7 linked regions of the Homo sapiens genome follow. The protein of the gene in region 1 interacts with the protein of each later gene in a biochemical or structural test. Each region holds a gene or a part of one and is shown on either strand. Other genes may lie near its edges.

Region 1 (3,500 bases):
TACAAGCCCCTGACCACGCAAGGGCTTATATCTTTTTAGAGAGTGAGTCCCTGGCCTGTCTGGGCTTGTACCTTCTTAACAGCCACCATTCAGGGAACACAGAAAGCACTGTGACCACCATATTTATTTCACCTCTGCCAAAAACTGCTTCTAGCTAGAAAAAGGAGTGAAATCCCACAAATCAAGACTTTTCAAAGCCCTAGATCTTTCTTGCCCTAATATTAACACTCAAAGTTTCTTTCTCTGGTGATAATGACTTGAACATCTGCTATGAGAAGAGACGAGATCACTGCCCTTCAATGCCCTCCACCATCTAATTTCCCATTTGTGACTGGCTAACCTGACAGCCCAGAGCATGAGAAAGAGCTTCACATGGAGCAGCAAGCAAGCAAGTGCAGGTTTTAGAGTCAGATTCTTTTCTGGGTTCAGTCGTCCACTAATTTCTGGCTTTGGGGAAGTCCTCCCAGAGCATTAGTTTCTTCATTTGCAAAATGAGGCCAGCATAGGATTGCTGAGGGGTTGACATGAACTCATTGAGGTGGAAGCGTGAAGCAGGTGCCTGGCACACAGGTACACAGGCAACATGCACAGAGGGTTTACCACAATGATGATGAGGATGACATGATGGCATTGACCAAAACAGTGTTGGCAGAAGTTTCTCTGGCCAGGGCTCCAGGTTCTTTATGGGGGTGGAGGAGGTACCCCTTTGCTCCAATGTTTTTAACACTCAAAAACGTTGAGGTGAAGAATAAAGCAGCCTAGCCCAGACATACAGAACATGGCAAACTGATAGTTTCAAATTCCTGCCTGAACTCTAAGAGCATTTGGATATTTCCTGCAGACCCGCTGTGTGCTGGGTATTGTTATAGTTGTTGGAGATGCAAACATAATGCAGACTTGTAATTGGTGTCCCTGAACTCAAAACTGGGAAGAGACACCCTTACATGTCAAACTACCTAAATTAATAAAGAGGCCGGGCGCTCGCGCCTGTAATCCCAGCACTTTGGGAAGCCAAGGCAAGTAGATCACCTAAGGTCAGGAGTTCGAGACCAGCCTGGCCAACGTGGGGAAACCCTGTCTCTCTACTAAAAATACCAAAGTTAGCAGGGTGCAGTGGTGCATGCCTGTAATTCCAAGCTACTTGGAGGCTGAGGCAGGAGAATCGTTTGAACCCAGGAGGTGGAGGTTGTAGTGAGCTGAGACTGCATCACTGCACTCCAGCCTGGGTAGCAGAGAGAGATTCTGTCTCAAAATTAATTAATTAATCAATTAATACCAGAGCTAAGGAAGCAATTATATTTGCCGCTATGGTCTTAATGTGCCCCCCTCAAAATTCATATGTTGAAATCAAATCCCCAATGCAATAGTGTAAAGAGGTGGGGTTTTTAGCAGGTGCTTAAGTCATGAGGGTGGAGCCCTTATGAATGGGATTAGTAGCCTTATAAAAGGGGACTGAGGGAGCTTGTTCACCCCTTCCACCATGTGAAGACAGCAAGAACGCACCATTGTTGAGGCACAGATCATCCCTCCCTCACCAGACACTTATTCTGATGGTGCCTTCATCTTGGACTTCCCAACCTCCAGAATGTAGGCAATACATTTCTATTGTTTATAAATTATTCAGTCTAGGATGTTTTGTCATAGCAGCTGGAATAGACTAAGATACTTGCCTACCAAGAAGTATAAGGAAAAGTTTCACAAAGGAGATATTTGAACTGTGCCTTGAAAGACGCAGAGAACTGTTGTGTGGAACAGTCCAGTTTGAGGAAGTGTCAGAAGGGAAGGCACTAAAATATAAAAGTAGACCATACCTAATGGGGTGGAGGAGGACTCAAAGTGTCTTGGTCTATTGGGAGATAAGTTTCAGATATACAATATACTAATTTCCCAATTTTGAAAATTTATAATTTATACTTGCCTACGAATTCTTTGTACAGTTAAGAAACCTATTTCACTTTATTAGATGAAATAAGGTGAAATAGATTTCTTAACTGTACAAAGACAAACTTCCCAGAATACATACACACACACATGCACACACGCATGCACATAAATACATACATGCGTGCACAAGCATACATACATGTTTCTTTTTCCTTTGGGAATCACTAGGGTTTGGGTAGTGGAACAAATGGGGAAGACAGGCTGGGGCCAGAAGGAGAGGAATGTGGGCAGTGTAATGAGGAGGTTACCCTGTAAACTGCTTGGGCTGGAGGCTGCAACCCCCAGCGGACAAGGTTTCCAGCGGAGTCAGGCATAGAAAGGCCCAAGGCTCCACATGACACTTCTTCCTGAAGCTTCACTTTTATTCATATTCATGTTCAAACAAACATGGTTATACTTGGGATTAAAACATGATACTTGCATCATTCATAAAATAAAACATGAGATTTCAAACATATGTCAGGGGTGCAGGGTCTTCTCCAGGCCATGGTCTCAGGCTCCGAGATCTTTACTCTGCTTTTAGGAGTGTCTTGGTGGGAAGGTTGGAGGAGTTGTGCTGGGTAATAGAAGAAGACAAAGGTTGTGGGGCAAAGGCAGAGAATGGAGGGTGGTCCCCACTGTCTCTGTACCTGGGTCTGCTAGACTGAGAAGAGGCAGGGATTCTGATTGGATTCTGGCCTTAACATATTAGCAAAGAGTAAAGGAAAGAATAAGCGAAGAGGAGAATGAATGGATTAAGGGTAGGGTCTTGTGTGCATGTGTCTGGATGCTTTTACGAGTGCTTGTGTTCATAGCACTTAACTAGAAATAAACAACAAAAAGGAGTTCCATACCACCAGGGATTTTCAGATAGGTCAAACAGCCTCTAGCTGGCTAGTGGTTTTCCTTTGTTTTGTTGCTTTTCTTTTCTTTTTTCAGGAGTTCATGGACTAATGGAATATAAAGCCATGTAGTGAGCAAGGAAAAATCCCTTCCCATTGAAACAGTGATTCCTGATTCTGTTCTCCAACCCAGGTTGCAAAGAGCCACCTACCTACTATGAAAAGTAACAATAAAAACTGGATGCGTTTTTATGAGAAAAGACGAAGAAAAGCTCATTTCTTTTTTGTGCTCCCTGCGTAGCTTCAGGGGACTAAGGAAAACAGCAGAAATATTGTGAGGACTAGTAAATGTTGGGGGAAGAGGTGTATGCTGTTTTTTGGTATTGCAGCACAGCTCTCACTGTCCACCCTGGGGCCTGACTTAATGTGTTAGGTTGAGCCAGACAAAGTGTGTTTGCTGCAACAAACAAAGCAACTGCAAGCGTTCCCTCCCTCTCACTGCTGCGTTATCACATCCCCAAGAACTGCTGCAGTTGGCCACGGCAGGTGTTTATTGCTTGTTTTGCAGGAACAGGAAACTGGCAGTAGTAACTTTTAAGTGAAAATAGATAACTGTAAAAATAATGATGACAACCAGCCTGGCAAATACAATGACAAGCTGTACCTGGAGCAGCTCCTTCAACATCGCCCAGCCTCTGGTGAAGGTTTGGCATCAGCAATCTGGGCTCCATGCGG
Region 2 (3,500 bases), on another chromosome or scaffold:
ACCAGCATTTATACATGTTATGTGGCTGCTGCACTTCACAGATAGAAAACTTGAAATCTATTACCTAAGTAATAACGGCTTGAACCATCTTAGTGGGTTTCTCAGATAAGAAGACTTCAAGTATTCACTGGACTGTATTCATTTTCATGTGAACATTATAGATGAGATTTTAGCCCTTATTATTGATTTAGTATTGTTCCTATCTGCATAAAGTGCCTTTTTTCTCTTCTTGCATAAAGTTATTCTAGCCTCAGGGTAATGAGGACATTTCTCTCCAGGAGGTAGAATATGATGTGGCAAATGTATCTGCATATCCAGAAATGCTTTATAAAGCAGCTGCTTGCTCTGAGCACTCATTGTGGTGGAAGCCAAGTTAAATGAGGTGTGCTATAATGTAATAGCATTTTTATTTGTTAACAAACAAGAAATTTACATACCTCATGCAAGCCTTTCTCTCTTGGCATTTAACCCGCATTTAATTTATATATATATATATATATATGTTTTAATTATATATTTTATATGTGTGTGTGTATATATATATATATATATATATATATATATATATATATACATATAGTTTTTATTTTTTTTGAGATGGCATTTCACTCTTATTGCCCAGGCTGGAATGCCATGGCACGGTCTCAGCTCACTGCAACCTCCACCTCCTGGGTTCAAGTGATTCTCCTGCCTCAGCCTCTCAAGTAGCTGGGATTACAGGTGCCCACCACCATGCCTGGTGAACTTTTTGGATTTTTAGCAGAGACAGGGTCTCACCATTTTGGTCAGGCTGGTCTCGAACTCCTGATCTCAGGTGATCCACCCGCCTCGGCCTCCTAGAGTGCTAGGATTACAGCCATGAGCCACTGCACCCAACCAACCATATGTTTAAGTTAACCATTTTTGTGTCTGCCCTCCACTAGACTGAGTACCTTGCAGACAGGATATGTACAAGTACTTGGAAAAATTCACATTATTCTCAATCTTCCACACCGAATGTTGGGCAGGGTGAGACAATGAGGTGTCTATTTTTTCCAACCAACAATTCTGTTAGTGCTCCAGACTTGGGTTTGCATGCTCCTAGCACTAAACTATTGGGCAAGTTAGTTAGTGTGAGTCTTCTGTAAAATGCAGCTGATAATACCTACCTCAGAGATTTGGGAATTTCTTCTGACAATTGTGTTCAGAGATGGTTTTTAAACTTCATGAGAACAGACTCAGTCACATAACATACGGCTGCATGTCATCTTTGTGTGTTACATCAGGTATTTAACTGAGAGAACATATGTAAAATGTCCAGTCCAGTAGCAGACACTTTGTAAGGGGCTAGTTAGTATTAGTTATTGTAAACACTCAATGATGACCCTATATATCGATTTTTATTTACTCTTTGCAGTGATCTTTTTCTGACTTTAGAAATCCAGCATCCCCTACCTTCCTCTAAAACCTACATACATTAGTTTCCTTTTGTTGGATTATGGCCATGCTTCCTATATTAACTTCATATTTTTCTTCTCTTTCTACCAGGGCAAACACTGTATACTTGATGTATCAGGAAATGCTATCAAGCGGTTACAAGTTGCCCAGCTCTATCCCATTGCCATCTTCATAAAACCCAGGTCTCTGGAACCTCTTATGTGAGTAGAGGGCATTGGAGGCCTTCATCCAACTGACTCCCTGTTCTGTATTATACTGAAAATTACTAACAGGATTTTGCTGGGAATGCTTACAAATGGGAAATGCCATTGTTGATTTTTCAGCATTCTCTTTTTTTGAAGATATATCAAAGTTCTTTTAAACAACTAGAAACATAATGTCAGTGATTTCTTTTTTTAACATCCCTCATTTTAACAATAATAGTAATTCCTTAAAACATCTTCAATAATGTTTCCTGATTTTTATTGTTTTACTTCACGGATTGTTTTCTTTGTTAGTTTTTGAGGTTTTGTTGTTGTTGTTTTGAGGATAGCTTGGCTTGATTTGGTTTTTTGGTTTGCTTTTGTTTTCCAAATGATAGGAAGCAATCATTTTTTAATTGTCTCATACTTCTGAGGCAGGTCTATAAGTAAATCTTTTTAAATGTGTAGATTTTTTATAGAGAGAGCAGACAACGTTTGAGACTTTTTTCATTGGCATTTTCCTTGGTTCTCTAATAGAATTCTGATGTTCCTTAATTAAAACTTTACATACATAGAACATCGTTCTTAATAGAGTTTTCTTAGTGGCGTGGCAGTAAAACATCTGTAACTTAAACCAGTAGCTTCATACCTGTGCACTCAGGGTTTTTTCTTTTTTTTTCCCCTCCAAAGGACTTGTGAAATAACTTCTTTCAAGAATCATTAAACAAAGTGGGCAGACATTCACGATCTGACTGTAAAGTCAGTATAGGCAACTCCCATTCACAAAGGTGAAGCTACAGTAGATAGAGGTAACCAGAAAAGGGGCTACCAGCAGGGACCTGAAAATTGATCAGGCAAGATTTGGTTCTTTACTTTGCCACTGATCAGTTAAGTAACCTTGGGCAAATTGCTTGACCTTTCTAAGATTTAGCTCCTCACCTCGAAACGAGGCATACTAATAAATACCTCATAGAGCTAGTATAAAGGTTAAATAACAAGATTAGGAATTTAGTAAAGCTGTTCATGTACTCTTTGGCATATGGTAAGTACTCAATAAATAATACCTATTATTATTGTAAAAGATATAAAATTACTTCATTATAAAGGAATAAAACTATTTTATCATTATAAAACACATAAACAGTACCTCTTCCATGACAGTGCAAGAGATAATGCCAATGTGTCTGTCATGAGGGCCTTGATCAAATTTTGCCTTCATCTGGGCCTCAAGACCATAGTGTTTGACAGGGTTCAGGAGTGAACCACAGAGTACTGGAAAATAATGTTTATGGAAGGACCGAAGAAACAGAAATTATTTAATCCCAGTGGTGAAAGCAATTGCTTACAGAGGATATTAACTGTTCTGTGTCTCCTCTGAAGACAAAGAAGCAAAGCAAACTGCAGCAGCTGGAGTGGCAGCCTGAGAGAATTAAGTTAAATACATAGTTGAGCTCTGGGGAAATAGCCAGAGATGTACCTTGAAAGCAGAATATAGTCCCATATATAAAAAATGGACAAGGATTCTTACCAGGATAAAAAAAGTAAGATCGGGAGGTCACTGACAGTACCTTCAGCCCCATGAATTTAGGTATTAAATTATAATATAAAGAGTTTTTCCCATGGCTGGCACATGGAAAAATATGTACTAATGATAAAATAATGATTCTTAATATTATCATCCCCAATAGCATGTATTAAATTTCTCCTTGTATAGGATACTATGTCGGGCATTGCACAAAGTGAATTAAGCAAGTACAAATTTCATGATGTAAAATTGATTTATAATCTGTCAAGAGCCTCATAAATATAAGTAATGCTAACATTAATGAGAAGAAAAATAGTCCTTACTTCCTGGGAACAGCCATCTTAAAGGCCTGTTTC
Region 3 (3,500 bases), on another chromosome or scaffold:
TTATTAGGTTGGTGCAAAAGTAATTGCAGTTTTTGCTATAAAAAATGGCAAAAACCGGCCAGGTGCGGTGGCTCACACCTGTACTCCTAGCACTTTGGGAGGCCGAGGCAGGTGGATCATGAAGTCAGAAGATCACAACCATCCTGACTAACATGGTGAAACCATGTCTCTACTAAAAATACAAAAAATTAGCCAGGCATAGTGGCAGGCGCCTGTAGTCCCAGCTACTTGGGAGGCTGAGGCAGGAGAATGGCGTGATCTCCTGGGAGGCGGAGCTTGCAGTGAGCCGAGATTGTGCCACTGCACTCCAGCCTGGGCAACAGAGCGAGACTCCGTCTCAAAAAAAAAAAAAAAAATGGCAAAAACCACAATTACTTCTGCACCAACTTAGTCAATAATAAAAGGCTAAAGTTTCTCAAAGCACCAATTTTGTGTTAATTAAGCAAAAAAAAAATTTGTTATAGTATCCTCCTTACAGTAGACTTTTTCTACTATTTCCTATGCAAATATGATAAAATGATTTTTAAATAAATTCTAAGTATATCCCCAAGATAAAATCAAAGTAAAAAAAAAAACATAGAAGATGAAGTTTAAACTCAAAATCACCATAATCTACCTTTCTAGCCATCTTTGGACATTCTCTACTTTGCATTATACAGTAAACAAAATTTAATATTTGCTATCGCTTTTCACCCTATCATCCCCGCCCACAGCTACTGCTTATCTCCGTGACTTTGGATGTCTTCTTCCCTTTGCCTGAAAACATGAAATTACTTGTTTAATTGTCTCATTACCCTATTGCAATATTCGTTCCTAGAAGACAATGTAATTAGCTTATATTCATTTTTGTACCTCCTGTGCCAATATAGTACCTAGTACATACACAAAGCCCAACTGGTGTCAATTGACTATTATTGGAATTGAAAATTACACCTAGGTCAGGAATTTCTAACATTTCCAGTTCTAGGGAAATCTCACAAGGTTAAAAATGTTTCTGGGAGCTTCTAACAGGTTTTTTTTTTTTTTGGAGGAGGGGGAAGGACTATTGCAGTAATAGGGTTTTTTTATAAACTAAGGCATAAAAGGAGGGAAAAAGAGAAACAGAAGCCCCATATCCCTGAAATTACTGACACAGCTTACCCTACCCTTCCTAGATGACTCAATTCTTGCCCCATAAAGTCTACTCCCCACATAGCAGTATCCTTAAAGCACTTCAATGAATTAAATGAGTTGTTTTGTGGTAAAGTGCTTAAGACAGTACAGAATCGTCACTACAAATTATTTATAAAACAAAAATCGGACAGGCGTGGTGGCTTATACCTGTAATCCCAACACTTTGGGAGGCCGAGATGGGTGGATCACCTGAGATCAGGAGTTAGAAACCAGCCTGGCCAACATGGTGAAACCCCATCTCTACTAAAAATACAGAAAAATTAGCCAGGTGTGGTAGCGGGCGCCTGTAATCCCAGCTACTTGGGAGGCTGAGGCGGGAGAATCGCTTGAACCCGGGAGGCAGAGGTTGCAGTGTGCTGAGACTGCGCCACTGCACTCCAGCCTGGGCAACAAGAACAAAACTCCGTCTCAAAAAAAAAAAAAATCATTGAATCCTCACAACTCTATAAGTAGATTCTAATAATACTCTCATATTATAGCTGAGGAAACTGGGGCAGATAGAAGTGAGGTGACTTGCACAAGGTCACACAGTGAGTGAGTGATAGAGTAAGGATTTGAACTCAAGCATTCTGGCACTTTTTCTTTTTTGAGACTGAGTCTCGCTGTATCGCCCAGGCTGGAATGCAGTGGTACGATCTCAGGTCACTGCAACCTTCACCTCCTAGGTTCAAGCAATTCTCCTGCCTCAGCCTCCCAAGTAGCTAGGACTACAACAACCTCGAACTCCTGGGCTCAAGCAATTCTTCCACTTCAGCCTCCCAAGTAGCTAGGACTACAAGCATGCACCACCAAACACAGCTAATGTTTTGTTTTGTTTTGCTTTGTTTTGTTGGCAGAGATGGGAGTCTTGCTATGTTGCCCAGGCTGGTCTTGAACTTCTGGCCTCAAGCAGTCCTCCTCCTTGATCTCCCAAAGTGCTCGGATTACAGGCAAGAGCCACAATGCCTGGCTTGAACTGCAAAATTCTTAAAAATGGGGATCATTTCTTATTCTTTATTCTAGTGTCCATGATTCCTAATCATAGTGTAGGCACATAATAAATGCTAAATAAATTTTAAAAAATAGTTTTACTTTACTTTTCAGTCTTCTGAAACCAGCAGTTCTGACCCTATCATCTAAGTATAGTTTGGCTATTTTTCCCTCAATAAATAATTGTGTACTTATCACATGTAATCATTGACCACTTTTCTGGCTAGTCACATGGCTTCGCAAAATGTTTCTGCAGTTGAACATCTATCAGCTTGCCTTTCTATTTCCCCAAAGTAATTCCTAGATATTTTACTGTACAGTTTTTCTTTAGTATTGTTTTGAAAAGATCTTAATACTGATCCTTGAAGCAATCTTTAGAGAACTGTTCCATTTACCTGACTCTCTCCAAGAGGTGTTCCATCTACTCCTTCTCCTTGTTTCTGATATCTTAGCCAGTTTCCTATCCATCATAATACAATGTGTCCATCCTCATTCTCTCTTTCTCAAATTGTATTTAGTGAAGAACCATGTTTACCACTTTTTGAAAGCTGAAACAGATCATGTTACTGCTTCTCTTTATTTAAAACATCCCATTATGGCAGGCACAGTGGCTCATGCCTGGAATCGCAGCACTGTGGGAGGCTGAGGTGGAGGATCACTTGAGCCCAGGAGTCCAAGGCATGACTGGGCAACATAGTGAGATCTCGTCTCTACAAATAATTAAAAAAAAAAAAAATTAGTCAAGTGTGGTGGTGCATGTCTGTAGTCCCAGCTACTCAGGAAGCTGAGGCAGGAGGACCACCTGAGCCCAAGAGGTCGAGGCTGCAGTGAACTGTCATAGTGCCACTGTACTCCAGACTGGGGGACAGAGCAAGACCCTGTCTCAAAAATAAATAAGTACATTGGGTGTGGTGGCTCACGCCTGTAATCCCAGCACTTTAGGAGGCCGAGGTGGGTGAATAACTTGAGCTCAGGAGTTGGAGACCAGCCTGGGCAACATGGTGAAACCCCGTCTCTATGAAAAATATGGCTAATAAAAACATTAATCAGGTGTGGTGACACACACCTGTAGTCCCAGCTACTTGAGGGGCTGAGACAAGAGGATCACTTGTACTCAGGAGGTCAAGGCTGCAGTGAGCCAAGATCGTGCCACTGCACTCCAGCCTCGGTGACAAAGTAAGACCCTATGTCATAAATAAATAAATATAAAAACATTCCATTATATTATTATGATATCTATCAGTTTGCTCAGTCATTTAATGAACACTTACTGACCACTGTGTGTCATGCACTAGACAAAGCATTAAAAAAACATTAAAGACACATGCATGCATGTGTTCACTGCAGCACTATCCATA
Region 4 (3,500 bases), on another chromosome or scaffold:
AGGGCTAGAATGAGGGAGGGAACAGTCCTGTGCTCTCTGCTACTCAGAGCTTAGATCCTGGGCTCTTCTCAGTGACTCTCAGCAGATCCAGAGGAGGCAGCTGGGAAGTTAGAGAGGGCCTGGAGTTTCTCCTTTGAAGAGTCAGGGTCTCCCAGCTATGAGCAGGGAGCTGGGTGCTGGGCATTTCCAAGAGCAGAGGAAGTGGGTGGTCTGGGGGTCCAGAGGGCACAGTTGGGGCCAGGGGCAGGGTGGGGGGTGGCCACAGAGGGGCAGCTTTCAGCTCAGGGCAGGAAAGCACGTCCAGCAGCCCAAACCTTGGGCCTTGAGTGAAAGTCCCATCTTTGCTCCCAGCAGCTGGACAAGTGCTTTTCCCTCTCTGAGTCCCAGTCATCTCATCTGTAAAAAGGAGGGAGGACTTCTAATGCACAGACATGGGGGAGGCTGACGGAGATAAAGGACAAGGCACAGCCCAGGCCTATAAATCCTAGCCCTAAGGGCAGAGCTGGAGGGTGAGGAAGGAGTCTGTCCACCCCACCCTTTGCAAACCCCATCTTCTGGAAGAGAACGGAATCCCCCACATCTGATTGGGAGGACAGTTCTTGGGGAGAGTCCATCTCTATGGTCTCTGCCAGCTTCTGAAAAAGCCACACTGAATGAACCACAGTCCAGGGACTGGTCTGGGTGACATTAGGGCTTGAAACAGCGTCATTCATTCTCGTACCATTTATCGAGCATCTGCCACGTGCCAGGTTCGGTGCCGCGGCCTGCACGCCTCATTACTTCCTCATGACACCTCTCTGAGCTTAGTCTTACTGTCCTCCCACTTTACAGGGAAAGCTGAGGTAGCGTTGCAAGGCTACACATCTGCGTACAACCCCTTGGCTCTCATTAACTGAGCTTCTACTAAGTGCCAGGCACTGCTCTAAGCATGTTATATTATTAACTCATTCTAACCCTCCCCATTACCCGAGGAGGTGGCCACTCTCTTGGTCCCATTTTACAGATAATAGCACTGAGGCACAGATAGGCGAAGTGACTCCTCCAGGTCCCGCAGTTGGTCAGGGACAGAGCTGGGATTTGACCCAGGCAACTGGCTCCAGAGTGGGCCAAGCCCTGGGGAGGGGGGCTGTGGAGATGTGGCTCAAGGAGACAGAATCAACGGGCTGAGACAGTTGAGTCCTCACCTGTCCATCCGCGCAAGAGGAGAGCTGGCCTGGGGCGGTCTGGGAAGAGGTGTTGTATGGTGGCCAGTTTGGAGGATCAGATGGAGGAAGCAGGGTCTCCTAGGGGGTCGGGGCAGTGGGGGTTCCCTGGGAACTTGGAACAGGAGTGCAAAGAATTCACTGTGGATAAGGCTGGGAAGGGTTGCAGCCTGGGAAGGGGGAGCAGCCTCAGCCCGTGGTGCACTTCAGCCTTGGCCAACCCAGCAGGAAGCCCTGGAGCAAAGGCTGTCCTGGAGAGTCGTGGGGCAGAAATAGCCAGGCCCTAGTGCCCCGGTGCTCAGCCACTGGCCGAGGCTGCCTGGGCTGCAGAGCCACTGCATATCCCCAAAGTGCTGCAGCTGGACACCGTCTGCCAGCTGCACTCCTCACCAATTCTTTCTTGGAGAAACTTCATGGCAGCACTCATAGCCATAGACCTCTCCGGCTCCAGGGCAGGATGCCTGTGTTCAAATCCCTGCTCCACAACCTCCCAGCAGTGGGCCTCGGCCTGGCTTCCTTTCTCTCTCCTGTCCCTGCCTCTCAGGCTGCCATGTGGCAGCAGCTGCACTCTGAACACAGTGCCCGGCACATTGTAGGCGTCCGGGACATGTGAGCAGAATACTAAATGCCTTGCCTGGCTCAGGGGAAGCACGAGGATCTTCTGGTTCTTGCTTTCCTGGCTTCATAGTGCCCTCAGCCACTAACGCCTGCACCTCTCTTTCCTCTTTCTCCGCTGGCTACAGTGAAAGTGCAGAGGAGTGAGCAGCTGCACCGCTGGGACCCCTGCGTGCCCTCCTGCCACAGCCCCCGGCCCGGCCACTGCAGGATGCCCACCTGGGCCACACCTGCTGGCCAGGACCAAAGCCGATGTAATGTGCCTGCCCTGCTGTAGCTCAGCCAGTCTTGTAGCCTTTCCTAGGGAGGGGGCGATGCCTGTTGTCTAAGGGAAGGAAACTCAGACTCAGAGATTAGTGAGCTGGGTGTGGTGGTGCACGCCTGTGGTCCCAGCCACTCGGGAGGCTGAGGCGGGAGGATCGCTTCAGCCTGGGAGGTTGAGGCTGCAGTGAGTCAAGATCACACCGCCGCACTTCAGCCTGGGTGACAGAGCGAGACCTCAACTAAAAAAAAAAAAAAAAAAAAAAAAAAGAGAGAGAGATTAGGTGGCCTGCCTCATTGTCATCTAGCATGCCAGTGGCAAGATTGGCCCCGTCCCTAATAGCTGAGTTTCACAGGGTCTATGGAAACCCTGCAGTCTTTGAGACCCAGAGAGGAAAGGGACTTGCCTGAGGTCACACAATGAGTAACTGATGTGAAGGGGGAAGGCATCCCCATCTCTCCCTGTGGTTGGGTGGCTTCCCAGCACCCACTGTGTGGTGGGGTGGAGAGCCTCGGCTGGGGTTCACGGGGCTGTGCTCTCATCTCCCCAGCCTTGTCTTCAACTCCCTTTTCCTCGCCGACCTTGAACCACGCCTTTTCCTGCAACAACCCCAGCACCCTTCCCCGTGGATCCCAGCCCATGAGTCCTCGAACTACAATGGGGCGGAGGAGGCAGCGAAGAAGGGAACACAAGAGCTCGTGTAAGCTGTGGTCTCTTCCCTCCTCCTTGGGCTGCTTGTATGTCTGAGAGTGAGGCTTGCCAAAGGGTGTATGTCAGGGCGAGGGGAGGTATTTTGGGCAGAGCTCCAGGTGTATGCGTGGGAATGTTAAATAACATGAGTGGAACACCAGGCTGTCATGGATGGTTGGGCAGGTTGTGCACTGCTCAAGAGGACCACTGAGAGGTGCCAGTTACTTTGTACACTTTTATTCTTGTATTTTTATTATGAAAAATTCCTAGGATTTGGTGATAACGTCCTTGAGGAAAGGAAGTCTTTTCAGATGTGCATGAAGTTTTCACATTTTTTGCCATTCAGTCCTGATTCATTCATGGATAAAGCCTCAGTGCTGCGTTACTATATCCTTACCACCTCTCTGCCATTTGTTAATTTCCCCTAAGACAAAGACATGGCCTGAGACTCTAGCTGTCCAGAATGTAATAATTTCCAGTCTTACTTCTCTGCTTATTTATTGTTCAAAATTGCCCTTTTGAAATAAAGATATTTACATGTTAAGAAAAGTAAATCAATAGAAGACAAAAGTAGTGAATGATAAGGCAGGAGCCCTGTGGAAGTGGCAAAACACAATAATGCCTAAAATTTTGAAACCCTTCTTGGGAACAGTCTTTCCTTTGTTGATGCAGAAAGGGTTCTCAGCCTCCTGCCACATGAGCTGCAGAGGCCTCCAGGAAGGATAGAAGAT
Region 5 (3,500 bases), on another chromosome or scaffold:
ATGTTGGACCCTACTCAGGGCAGCCAAAGGCCAGGCCAGCTGAGCCCTGACAAGCAGACACAGCTGCAGGGGAGAGGCACTGGGCAGGGGATCCAGCTCAGCCACTTCCCTCTGGTCAGAGGCTTGGCTACTGACCAGACCCCAGGAGGCTGAGCTCTCCCTTGGGAGCAAGCATCCCCCCGGCCCATACCTGAGGATGAGGGAGAGCCAGGCAGGTCTAGGTGAGGGGAAGTGAGGAGACCTGGTGGGGAGGGCTGGTGCCCGCTGACCCATGCCTGTGGGAGAAAGATGTCTCTGAGGCAGCTCCAGAGGGAGGACAGTCAGATAGCCCTGCAGAGGGCCCCTCTGATCTGGCCCCAGCCTCTCTTGGATATCATTCTGTTGCCCTTGCTCATGCTGTCATCATGATCTTCTGGACACAACTCCCATCTTTCCTGTCAGCATCTCCTCTGTGACCGAGGCCACAGCCTTTCTGCGTGGGGTCTGCAATGACCCAGCCCTGCAGGGGGACGACCCCTTCTCTGTAGATGGGCATTTGGGGGTGCCCTGCCGTGAGAGAGCCTTGCTGTGGGGGTGTCCTGCTGTGGGGGAGCCCCATGGGCAGTTCACTAGGACAGAACAGACATTGCAAAATTCGCCCTGGAAAGAAGTATGCTGGTACCTGCAACTTTCTTTGAAATGCCCGGCAAATGAGATGGATTGATGGATGTGGAGGGATGGAGTGTGATAAAGCAAAGCGAGTGAAATGTTATGGTACAGCCATGGTGGCGGGTGTTCAGGTATACACTTTAGAATGTTTTCTACTTTTCCTGCCTAGAAATCTGCAAAAATGTCTATAATAAAATGTTGGGGATCACATAGAGGAGTAGGGAAAGTTGATTTTCTGCAGGACAGGCCTGGCTGGGCAGCTCAACTTGCCCCCAGGAGTCCCCTCTCAGTCTAGAAAACTCTTTTGCTTTCCTTCACTGATGTTGGTTTTTACACTTTGTTCACCTCTACACTCAAGGCAGCAATACACTCCTGTCATTAATAGAGGCTATGGCAATGAGTCTGGGGGTAAGGGCTATGTGTATTTTAAGAAATCTCAAGTAGCTCTAAGATGCCCCTGCGGGGCCTGGAGGGCAAGCTGGACTTTGCAAAGCAGATGCTGTGGCTTCCTGGCAGTCCAGACGTCTGTTTCTATATTGTCCTTTCCTGTCTCTGCAGATTCCAGGGCAGGGGAAGGGGCGCTGTGGGCACAAGGTGGCCAGTATTTTAAGAGGGCACCACAGGCTGGGTGTGGTGGCTCATGTCTGTAATCCCAGCACTTTGGGAGGCTGAGGCAGGCCAATCACTTGAGGTCAGGAGTTGAAGACCAGCCTGGCCAACATGGTAAAACCCCCTTTCTACTAAAAATACAAAAATTAGCCGGGCATGGTGGCATGCGCTTGTGGTCTCAGCTACTGTGGGGAGACTGAGGCAGAAGAATCGCTTGAACCCAGGAGGCGGAGGTTGCAGTGAGCCGAGATGATGCCATTGCACTCCAGCCTGGGCATCAGAGCAAGACCCTGTCTCAAAAAAAAAAAAAAAGAGAAAGAAAAAAAAAAAAGAGGGCACCACAGCCCCTAGGGCTGAAATGGCAGGTTCACAGCAATTGGAGAGGGCTGTCCTGGTCTTGCCGTCATCACCCACGTGGTGTAGGGCAGTGTTTCCGTGACCCGTAATGTGGTCGTGCAGAAACAACTCAGTTCCTGGGCTGCATCTGCAGAGCCCATCTGGGAATGGGCTGGACACTGGTGACTGGTGACTGCAGGGCATCCTGGTTTGGAAGGGGCTTCCCTGTGAGGGGACTGGCAGGAGCTTCCACCCATGTCTGTAAGCCCAGAGCCTGGCCAGAGGCCCACCCAGGCTTGGCACCTGGGGCAAGGGACTGTCCCCAGAGCCTCTCTGGGCTCCTTCTAGGATGGTTCTCGGGCCTTGGCCTGAATCTAGCTTCTGCCAACACTAGGAGCTGGCTTGGTCCTTGGGTTATAGCCAGGAAGGTGACTGGGATGTGCCCAGAGAAGCCCAGAGGACTGGCTGGTGGGCATGTTTGGGAGGCAAAGCCAAGGAACACTTCCAGCCACAGCTTGTAGGGGGTGGGGTCCGGAGCCTCCTCTTTCCTGTGATGTCCCTGAAGGCCAGGCCTGCATGGCACTCCTCATGATGTCATGGGGGTTGGGGACCTCCAACATGGTATGGTGGGAGTCAGGTCATAAAGCCATTCTATGTGATATTAGCAGGGGCCAGCCCATTCCATGTGATGTCACAGAGGGTACAGCCAGAGTCTCTGGCATTCCATGAGGTATCTTTAGGGGTGGGGCTGCTAATGTCACTAGGGGCCAGCCATCAAGCCTTTTTAGGTGACATTATTAGAACCTCTGAAATTTTGCATCTCATGTGATATTACTGTGGGCAGGGCCACCAAAGCATTCAGTGTGCTATTACTGGAGGCCGGGGGTGCAGAATTTGGCATCGTGCATGATGTCCCCAAGAGTGCAGTCTGAGCCACGATGACATCCCAAGTAATGTCCCAGGAGGTGTGGCCTTCCTGAGATTCCATGGGGAATTCCCGGGATGGAGTTGCAGTGGCATTCTGTGTGGTTACACTGAAGATGGGGCCTCCAGACTGTAACATTCTGTGGTATTATCGGGGCTCAGGGTTTGGGAACTGGCCCCCGCACCTGCACCCTGCCTTCTGGAGGTATGACATCAACTACAGAACCCTAAGCCCTGCCCCATTTCCCAGCTGAGTTTGCTCATCCAGGCAGGGTTGTCGGCTACCTCACTCTCTCCACATCTGCCAGGTAGCACAAAGCACCTGGCACTAAGATGCTTTTGAGTGGGTGCATTTATCCTGCCCTTCAGCCTGGCAGTGTCTCTGGGATGCTGCTGTGTCTTAGCTGCTGCATCTCCCTTTTCTCCTGGAGTCTGAAAAGTGCTCCATAGCTTTGCAGGGTGCAGGGGTTATAAGAGGCTAATCAAGGTTACAAATAGCCTGCAGTTTTTTGTTTGTTTGTTTGTTTTTAGACAGAGTCTCGCTCTCACCCAGGCTGGAGTGCAGTGGCATAATCTTAGCTCACTACAACCTCCACCTCCTGGGTTCAATCAAGAGTTCAAGCGATTCTCCTGCTTCAGCCTCCCGAGTAGCTGAGACTACAGGCACATGCCACCATGTCCAGCTAATTTTTTTTGTAATTTTGGTACAGACGGGGTTTCACCATGTTGGCCAGGCTGACCTCAGGTGATCTGCCTGCCTCAGCCTCCCAAAGTGCTGGGATTACAGGCATGAGCCACCACACCTGGCCACCCTTTTTTTTTTTTTTTTTAAGACCGAGTCTCCCTCTGTCACCCAGGCTGGAGTGCAGTGGTGCAATCTCAGCTCACGGCAACCTCTGCCTCCTGGGTTCAAGCAATTCTCCTGCCTCAGCCTCCCAAGTAGCTGGGACTACAGGCGCCCACCACCAGGCATGGCTAATTTT
Region 6 (3,500 bases), on another chromosome or scaffold:
GACAAGTAAGTCGTAGATTTGGGTTTAGAAACCAGGAACTGTGTCTTTAGATGTTTGCTCTCAGCCATTAACTGCATAGCCTAGTACTATGTATGTTGTTATGAATTGGAATTTATCCATATTGTTTGTTTTTTAATGCTTGATTTAAAAAGACATTTCCATCTACTAACTGCTATATCACATCAACCTAAAAATAGCAATTTTGCTTCTGGAATAGTGATGGGATATCCACAAGTTTCTCTTAATTATATATTTTATGAGGTCTACATGTAGAAAATCTAGTTTCTGAGGCAAATATTGTAGGATTTGCAAATCAACTATGAAAAATATTCCTCAGTCTAACTACAAATGGGAAAATGGGCAAGATCTTAGACATCCAGGTGGCGAGTGCTATAAAGAACCAAATTTGGTGGGAACATGAATGTAAAGTAAGTCCATTATTTTCTGAGGCACTGAGTAATGTAGATGGGAGAAAGACAGGTTTCAAGATTGAGGATGAAGTTGAGGTTTCTAAAGTTTGGAAAGTAAGTGAAGTCCAAGAATGCCATTCTATATTTCGTGGACAGCGTCTGAGAAGTAACCACTACCTGTTGAGAACAAAGAAAACCTATTTGTGGAATGTTGGGAACCCCCTGAATCAACATCAGATAAGGCCAGAGGTTGATGCGATCCTGAAGATACAGGGGGAGCTTTTGGGAAGGCTTTAATTATGCTCTGAAGTCTGGGCCTTTGAGGTTCCTGCCACCATTTGATGAACTCCATTGGAAACGTGGTGGACTGAGAGGTGAGAACTGTGGGATTGCTTATCTCCGAATCCTGACACTTTATCAGTGTCCCAGCCTCCAAATCCAATTTAGTGAAGTTGTTAGTGGAGAAGTGATTGTCTTCTTATGTGCTTATGGTGGGGATCGTTGAGTAATTAGTTAAATTTATCATCAAAATTATGTGTCACAGGTGAATGGGTAATTGAGCTGTATCCTGCAGGGACTCTCAACCCTGGCTGAACTTCAGTAACCTCTAATTTTCACATTAAACATTTTAAACATTACAAATACCTGTGTCCCTTCCCCCAAGATTCTCATTCATTGGGTTAGGAGTGGGTCCTGGGCATAGGTATTTTAAAAAGCACTCCAGGTGATTCTAATGCCCAGCCAAGGTTGAGAATCACTAATCTACTCTAATCTTTTCGTATGGCTGAACTCATTGGATTTTAAACTCTTTTGATGGCAGATACTGTGTCTTAGATATCTACACACCAATCTGTTATTAAGCAACAGAATAAGCACAATACATGTTATTTGTTAATGGGATTATTATTATGAAGTGCAGGGCTTAAAACCTTGCTGTCTAGGGATTCAAACCTTTTAAGTGTCTTTCACTGATTTACAGAAAGTGAATTTATTACACATTGTTTTTCAAAATGAATTTTGACATTTCTGGCCTTTTCTCATTAAAAAAAAACAAACAAATAAAAGCATGGAATTTGTTAGAGTATTTATTGACCTTTTAGTGCCATTAGGAATACTCCTACTCCTACCCTTAAAGAATTCTTCCTATAGAAGGTGCTCAAATAATTGCTTAAAGTGAACATTCATTTTATATAGACAGTTGTCCCTTAGTATCCATAGGGGATTGATTCCAGGACTTCCCTCGGATACCAAAATCTGCAGATGCTCAAGTTCCTGATATAAAATGCTGCAGTGTTTGCATGTAATCTACACACATCCTCCTGTATACTTTAAGTCATCTCTAGATTATTTATAATACCTAATACAATGTAAAAGCTATTTAAACAGTTGTTATACTATACTGTTTAGGGAATAGTGACAAGAAAATTGTGTGTGTGTGTTCAGTACACGTAGTTTTTTTTCTAAATATTTTTGATCTGGGGTTTGGTTGAATCCGCAGATGCGGAATGCATGGATGCGGAGGGCTGACTGTGTGTGTGTGTGTGTGTGTGTGTGTGTGTGTGTGTATTCACTGAGGATGAAGTGAATAAGGGAAAGGCTTGTCTAGTAATGAGGATGTATAGTGTGTTCTGGGGTTGGAATGAATGAGAAATAAGAGCATTGAATTCGTGGAATAGCAGGCATGCTGGAATTTACAAAGGCCAATTTGTGGCTCTGACTGCGTATGTGAGTACACCCTTTTTTGGAAAGGAAAAATTATATTTGATAGGGTTTTCAAGATGAATCTTTTCTGTATTCAGATATTTTGAATAATATGTTTGTTTTACAAGTTGAGGCAGCTTCCCAGAACTGGGAGTAGTCTGATTAGACTAACAATTCCATTCCCTGATTAACTGTGGGATCGGAATCTAAGAGAATTTGTGTAGTTAGAAGAATCTGGTATGATAATGTGTGGGAGTAGCCTGGAGGAATAGGCTAGAACTCTTGAATTTCTAAACTTTTCAGGCTTTGATGCCTTGTTACCTAAATAGATTTTAAGGTTCTTGTATACATAAGCTAGGCCCAGACTGGATTCCTCAAATGCTTTTCAATTGATTGGGCACTGACTTACTTGAGTGCTTTATTTCCTATTCAGACCTCACTTCTTTACAGCATGTGGACAGAACTGACTCGCCATCAGCATTACACATGCTTCCAACTTGGTTTTGGTTCTGCTACTCAGCTTGCATTGAGCAGCTTCTAAGTTTGCAAACAGAGGGCTCGTGGGGCCTGCTGTGACCCACAGACATATTTTTGTAGGTCTGCTCAGTGTTATATTTTGACTTAGTTGTCAGCATTTAAATATTTTGAGATTTCATGCAAAACTCCAGATTCCTATCTTCTTTGGGGGAAAAGCAAATTGGAAGCTCTGACAATGCTGGGCTTTACTTTCCCACATAGCAACCATCAGTTGGAGCTGAGACACCTCTGCTCTCTTTAGAAAGAATTATTAATGCTTCAGTCTCCATTATTGCTTCCCTAACAGTGAGGATAAGTTATTGTCATCATGCTTGACTGTTTTTACTCTGTGCTTATTTTCTCACTTATGGCCTTAATTCATGGTTGCTATTTGGCCTGCTGGTGGGCATTTGAGTTTGTGCTCCTGGATCTTCTCTCCCCTCCCTCCTCTTTCTCTTTCTCTCCCTCTCACACACACATCCCCACACACCCTCTGTGTATAATCCATGCACATAGGGTTTGCTGAACCGGGTTTGGCTGGTTATCTGAGCTGAGTTAATTGCCCTGTGCGCGATTGGGAGCCACAGCCCTGATTTGTAGCTTGAGGCCCTGTGCTTAATCAAGTGGCTTAGTTAACCAGGAATTCATTCCCAGGGTATTCTGTGCTACAGATTCCCTTTGAAGAAGTTGGGCAAATGGTAATGTTGTCAGATTTTTGTGAGACTATTTTATGAGTGGACTGTTAAAGACATCTGAGGAGTGTGTTAAACATTCAGAGCTTTGGGCCTCTCTTGGAAAATCTAAAGCAGTGTAGTGCAGTAGAACTTTCTGGGATGAAGAGATGTTCTAGATCTGCATCTTTCAAGAGGGCAG
Region 7 (3,500 bases), on another chromosome or scaffold:
CTCCTGGGCTCAAGTGATCCTCCCACCTTAGCCTCTCGAGTTGCTAGCTAATTTTTAGTGTTTCATAGAGACAGGGTCTTGTTGTGTTGCCTAACCTGGTCTCCAATTCCTGGGCTCAAGCAATCCTCCCACTTCAGCCTCCCAAAGCACTGGGATGACAGGCATGAGCCACTGTGCCCAGCCTGTCTTTACTTTTTCTTATAAATATTTTCAACCTCAAAAAAATTAGAGAAAATAGTATAGTAACCCCCACATACTCATTATCCACATTAACTAGTTATCAGGACTTTGCCATGTTTGCTTCACCTATCATGCCAAACATCGATCACATCATTTTATTCCTAATATTTCTCTATGCATTTCTTAAAAACTGGACATTTTCTAACATAACTACAGAACTGCTAATACACCTAACAAAAGTAACAATAATGCCTTTGTATTATCCATTACCCTGTCCATAATCATATGCCCTCAATTGTCTCAAAACATGTTTTACAGTTGGCTTGTTTGACGGACGTTCCAAAAAAGTTCCACACGTGACATTTGGTTGTTATGTCTCTAAAGGCCCTTTCAACAGCCCTCTCTCTTTGACTTGTCACAGAAATCAGGTTGTTTGCTCTGCACAATTCCCACATTCTGGTTTGTCCTCTTATTGCCAGTTAGCTTGTTCACCTATCCCCTATATTTTCTATAAATGGAAGTTAGCTCTGGGCTTGATTAGATTCAAGCTCATTTTTCTTTTTTTCTCGCTTTGGCATAATGATTAAAACAAGATCATTCTGGAGGCAGGAAGACCAGTTAGCCGGTTGTTACCATAGCTGGTTGGGGACAGAAAGAAGATGGGTGAATGTATTTGGAGGTAGAGGAAACCTGATTTACCTACCAATTGAATGCGTGGGGTGAGGAAGAAGGAAGAGTCAAAGATGATTCTAAGGCTTTGAGCCTGCATAACCAGGAGGGTACCAATGTCATCCTATGAGAAGGATGAGTTTTTAATGAGAGCAGCAGGTATCATGGTTAGATTAAAGGAGGAACTTTCTCACTTTCTCACAGTAAGAGGCCATCTGCTCTGTTTTTTTTTTCCAGATAATACTATCTTTCCCAGAAAAAAATTTGATTCGTGGTATAGCTAAACATTTGATAATGTTTGGAAAACATTTGGAAAGGGACTCCGTATTTTTTGTTAACTGCAAATAGTTAAATTTCCAGCTCCAGGGCCTTGAGAGGGAGGATAGTATATACAATTCTGGATAGAGAGAAGGTAATGCTGATATCTCCCTTGCAGATGAGCCTACTGTCCCATATCATCATGGGTTTCTGAGTCATCAGGCTTGGGTAGGAGAGTGTAGGATGCCAGAACCTGGGATTTCTCTAGACACAGCCAATGAGCATAGCTCAAGATCCATGTCTTTCCTTGATATTGGCTGAAGTCTCTATCCCACACCCACTCTTCCACCCAATATGGAGGCTGTGTGGACCCTCAGTGGACCATGGCAACAGTGTTCTTGCCAAAGTCAAAAATTGCCTAAAAGCCCTGGGATATTCACTGGACTCTGACAAAGCCCCAAGATTATTTCGACACCTCAGTAGGAACTTGCTTAACTCGTTGAATTGGATTAGGTGAGAACTACTCTCAGCTCCATCCCATCATACCCTCCTTCATAAAGGCTTTTCTCTCTCTTCCTTCCCCTAGCTCATCTTTCTTCTTGCTTTTTCTTCTGCTCCCCCCTCCCTGCTCTTTCTCTTCCAGCGTACATTTATTCTCTCAAGTTAATCAAACACTGGCCCCTACAGCCCATTGTGCCTCAGATTGATCACTTAAGTAGCGTTATTGATTGCCCAGAAAACCTTAGGAGGTGGGAGTGTTCTGAAAGCTAGGATCTGACAGCTGATTGGCTGCCTATGTCTCACTCGGCAGCCTCAGCTCCTCTGCCGTCTGGAACATCTTTTGAGAAAGGTGAGGGAATGAACAGCGGAGATCCTTAGCGGGCTTCACTTATCTCATCCTTCCTTCATACTGGAGTTAAGGCATGGGAAGAGAAGTCTATTGACCACTCCAGGATCTAGCCCTGTACTAATGTTATGGTGAGAAGGGGAAAGCAAAGGCCCTGCTCTCTGGAAATCCGTAATTTAACAGAAAAATAATACTCATTCATATGAAGTAACTAAGAATAATACAAGATGGAAAACAATTATGTGCCACATTTTTTTGCTCTAAACAGTAAGCACTGTAGGGGTTCAAAGCACAGAGAGAATGAGAGTGTGGGCTGGAATGAGGGGAGAAGTCTTCCCAGAAGAAGTTGAACCTGCGTTATGTTTTGAGTAACATGTGAGATTGAGATTGTTGACTAGAAAAGGAACAGGCTTCTGAGGGGGAGGCACAGCATAGGGAAAAGGCTGGAGATGGAAATGGTCAGGGTGTTATCAAGAAAGGGTCAGAAAGAAGTCTGACTAGAGGAGAGGGTGTATATGCAGGCACAGTGGGGAAAAAATGATTGGCTGGGTATGGGACTCCCAGATTTGAAGAGTCTCTGATGTCAGAAGAAGTTTGGACTTGGGTAAACCTTGGGGGCTGTCGGACAATTATGCATAGTGATTCAGGATGGTTAGCTATGCAGTTGGAAGCAGAATTGATTGGAATAGGGAGAGACTTGAGACCAGCCTATAAGATACTACAGCAATCTAAGTGAGAGGTGATAAGGGTGGTGGCAGTGGGCATAGAGAGGAGGGTCAAATCCAAAAGGCTCTCAAGGCATCGGTGTGGCTGATAAACCACCAAGTAGATTTTCTTGACTTGTTTTTGTCTCACTCGCTCCTTCCTCTTAGCCTCAATACTTACACTTTCTTTGCCTCATGCCCTCAGGACCTTAAGGTGGCAGAGTTTCTGGAGCTAAGATAACATTGGGCATTATAATCAGTTATCCTTTCCAAGTAAAGTAGATGCGCACAGGGGCCTTCAGTACCATGACCTGAAAGAGTGAGCAATGAGGAATCTGGCTGCAGAATGCAGTTGAGATGATAGCCAAGCTGGGGTGCTGAGTATTACATCCCCCAACAGGGAGGCCGGAGGCAGGCGATGCCTGTGTCTGGTCTGTTTCAAGTCCCCCAAGGCTTCTGAGAGCTGGTAAGAGTGAGGAAACATCTTTCAACTTCCCTGGTAGAATCAGTTTGAAAACTCTTCTGAGCACTTGGGAATCATCTCAGTGAAGGTCACACCTGTGCCAGAGTATGGCAAGAGCTACCACAGCACTTTGATGCCAGCTGGAGCCCTGTTGCAGCTGGTATAAGGAAACTAAGTGAGGAGTCCACAGGTTGATGGGAGAGTCATGGCCAGGGCCTCTGCCTGCTAAATTGCCTCCCCCACCAACTTTCCCCTCCCCACCCAATCCACTGAATATCAGCCCTGGATAGGTGTCTGGGCCAGGTCTGCCAGCCCTGGATTGGAGGGAAATAGAGAACTGCAGATAAAGGGATATTTGTGAGATTTTAGTCTCCTTTTA

Evidence for each region.
Region 2: the proteins of REELD1 (region 1) and DLG2 interact in a test that uses a peptide from one of them, tested with the Homo sapiens proteins (one large-scale study listed by IntAct).
Region 3: the proteins of REELD1 (region 1) and SYNJ2BP interact in a test that uses a peptide from one of them, tested with the Homo sapiens proteins (one large-scale study listed by IntAct).
Region 4: the proteins of REELD1 (region 1) and GRIP2 interact in a test that uses a peptide from one of them, tested with the Homo sapiens proteins (one large-scale study listed by IntAct).
Region 5: the proteins of REELD1 (region 1) and LDB3 interact in a test that uses a peptide from one of them, tested with the Homo sapiens proteins (one large-scale study listed by IntAct).
Region 6: the proteins of REELD1 (region 1) and PARD3B interact in a test that uses a peptide from one of them, tested with the Homo sapiens proteins (one large-scale study listed by IntAct).
Region 7: the proteins of REELD1 (region 1) and FRMPD3 interact in a test that uses a peptide from one of them, tested with the Homo sapiens proteins (one large-scale study listed by IntAct).

Annotation. Positions count from the first base shown.
Region 1 is NC_000004.12:146,224,538-146,228,037, reverse strand, and holds part of REELD1 (reelin domain-containing protein 1 precursor), read right to left. Parts: coding exon 3,430-3,500; intron 1-3,429.
Region 2 is NC_000011.10:83,464,845-83,468,344, reverse strand, and holds part of DLG2 (disks large homolog 2), read left to right. Parts: intron 1-1,527; coding exon 1,528-1,637; intron 1,638-3,500. UniProt on the Homo sapiens protein: Required for perception of chronic pain through NMDA receptor signaling. Regulates surface expression of NMDA receptors in dorsal horn neurons of the spinal cord.
Region 3 is NC_000014.9:70,407,091-70,410,590, forward strand, and holds part of SYNJ2BP (synaptojanin-2-binding protein), read right to left. Parts: intron 1-3,500. UniProt on the Homo sapiens protein: Regulates endocytosis of activin type 2 receptor kinases through the Ral/RALBP1-dependent pathway and may be involved in suppression of activin-induced signal transduction.
Region 4 is NC_000003.12:14,516,343-14,519,842, reverse strand, and holds part of GRIP2 (glutamate receptor-interacting protein 2), read left to right. Parts: intron 1-1,945; coding exon 1,946-2,071; intron 2,072-2,629; coding exon 2,630-2,779; intron 2,780-3,500.
Region 5 is NC_000010.11:86,675,011-86,678,510, forward strand, and holds part of LDB3 (LIM domain-binding protein 3), read left to right. Parts: intron 1-3,500. UniProt on the Homo sapiens protein: May function as an adapter in striated muscle to couple protein kinase C-mediated signaling via its LIM domains to the cytoskeleton.
Region 6 is NC_000002.12:204,548,475-204,551,974, forward strand, and holds part of PARD3B (partitioning defective 3 homolog B), read left to right. Parts: intron 1-3,500. UniProt on the Homo sapiens protein: Putative adapter protein involved in asymmetrical cell division and cell polarization processes. May play a role in the formation of epithelial tight junctions.
Region 7 is NC_000023.11:107,456,152-107,459,651, forward strand, and holds part of FRMPD3 (FERM and PDZ domain-containing protein 3), read left to right. Parts: intron 1-3,500.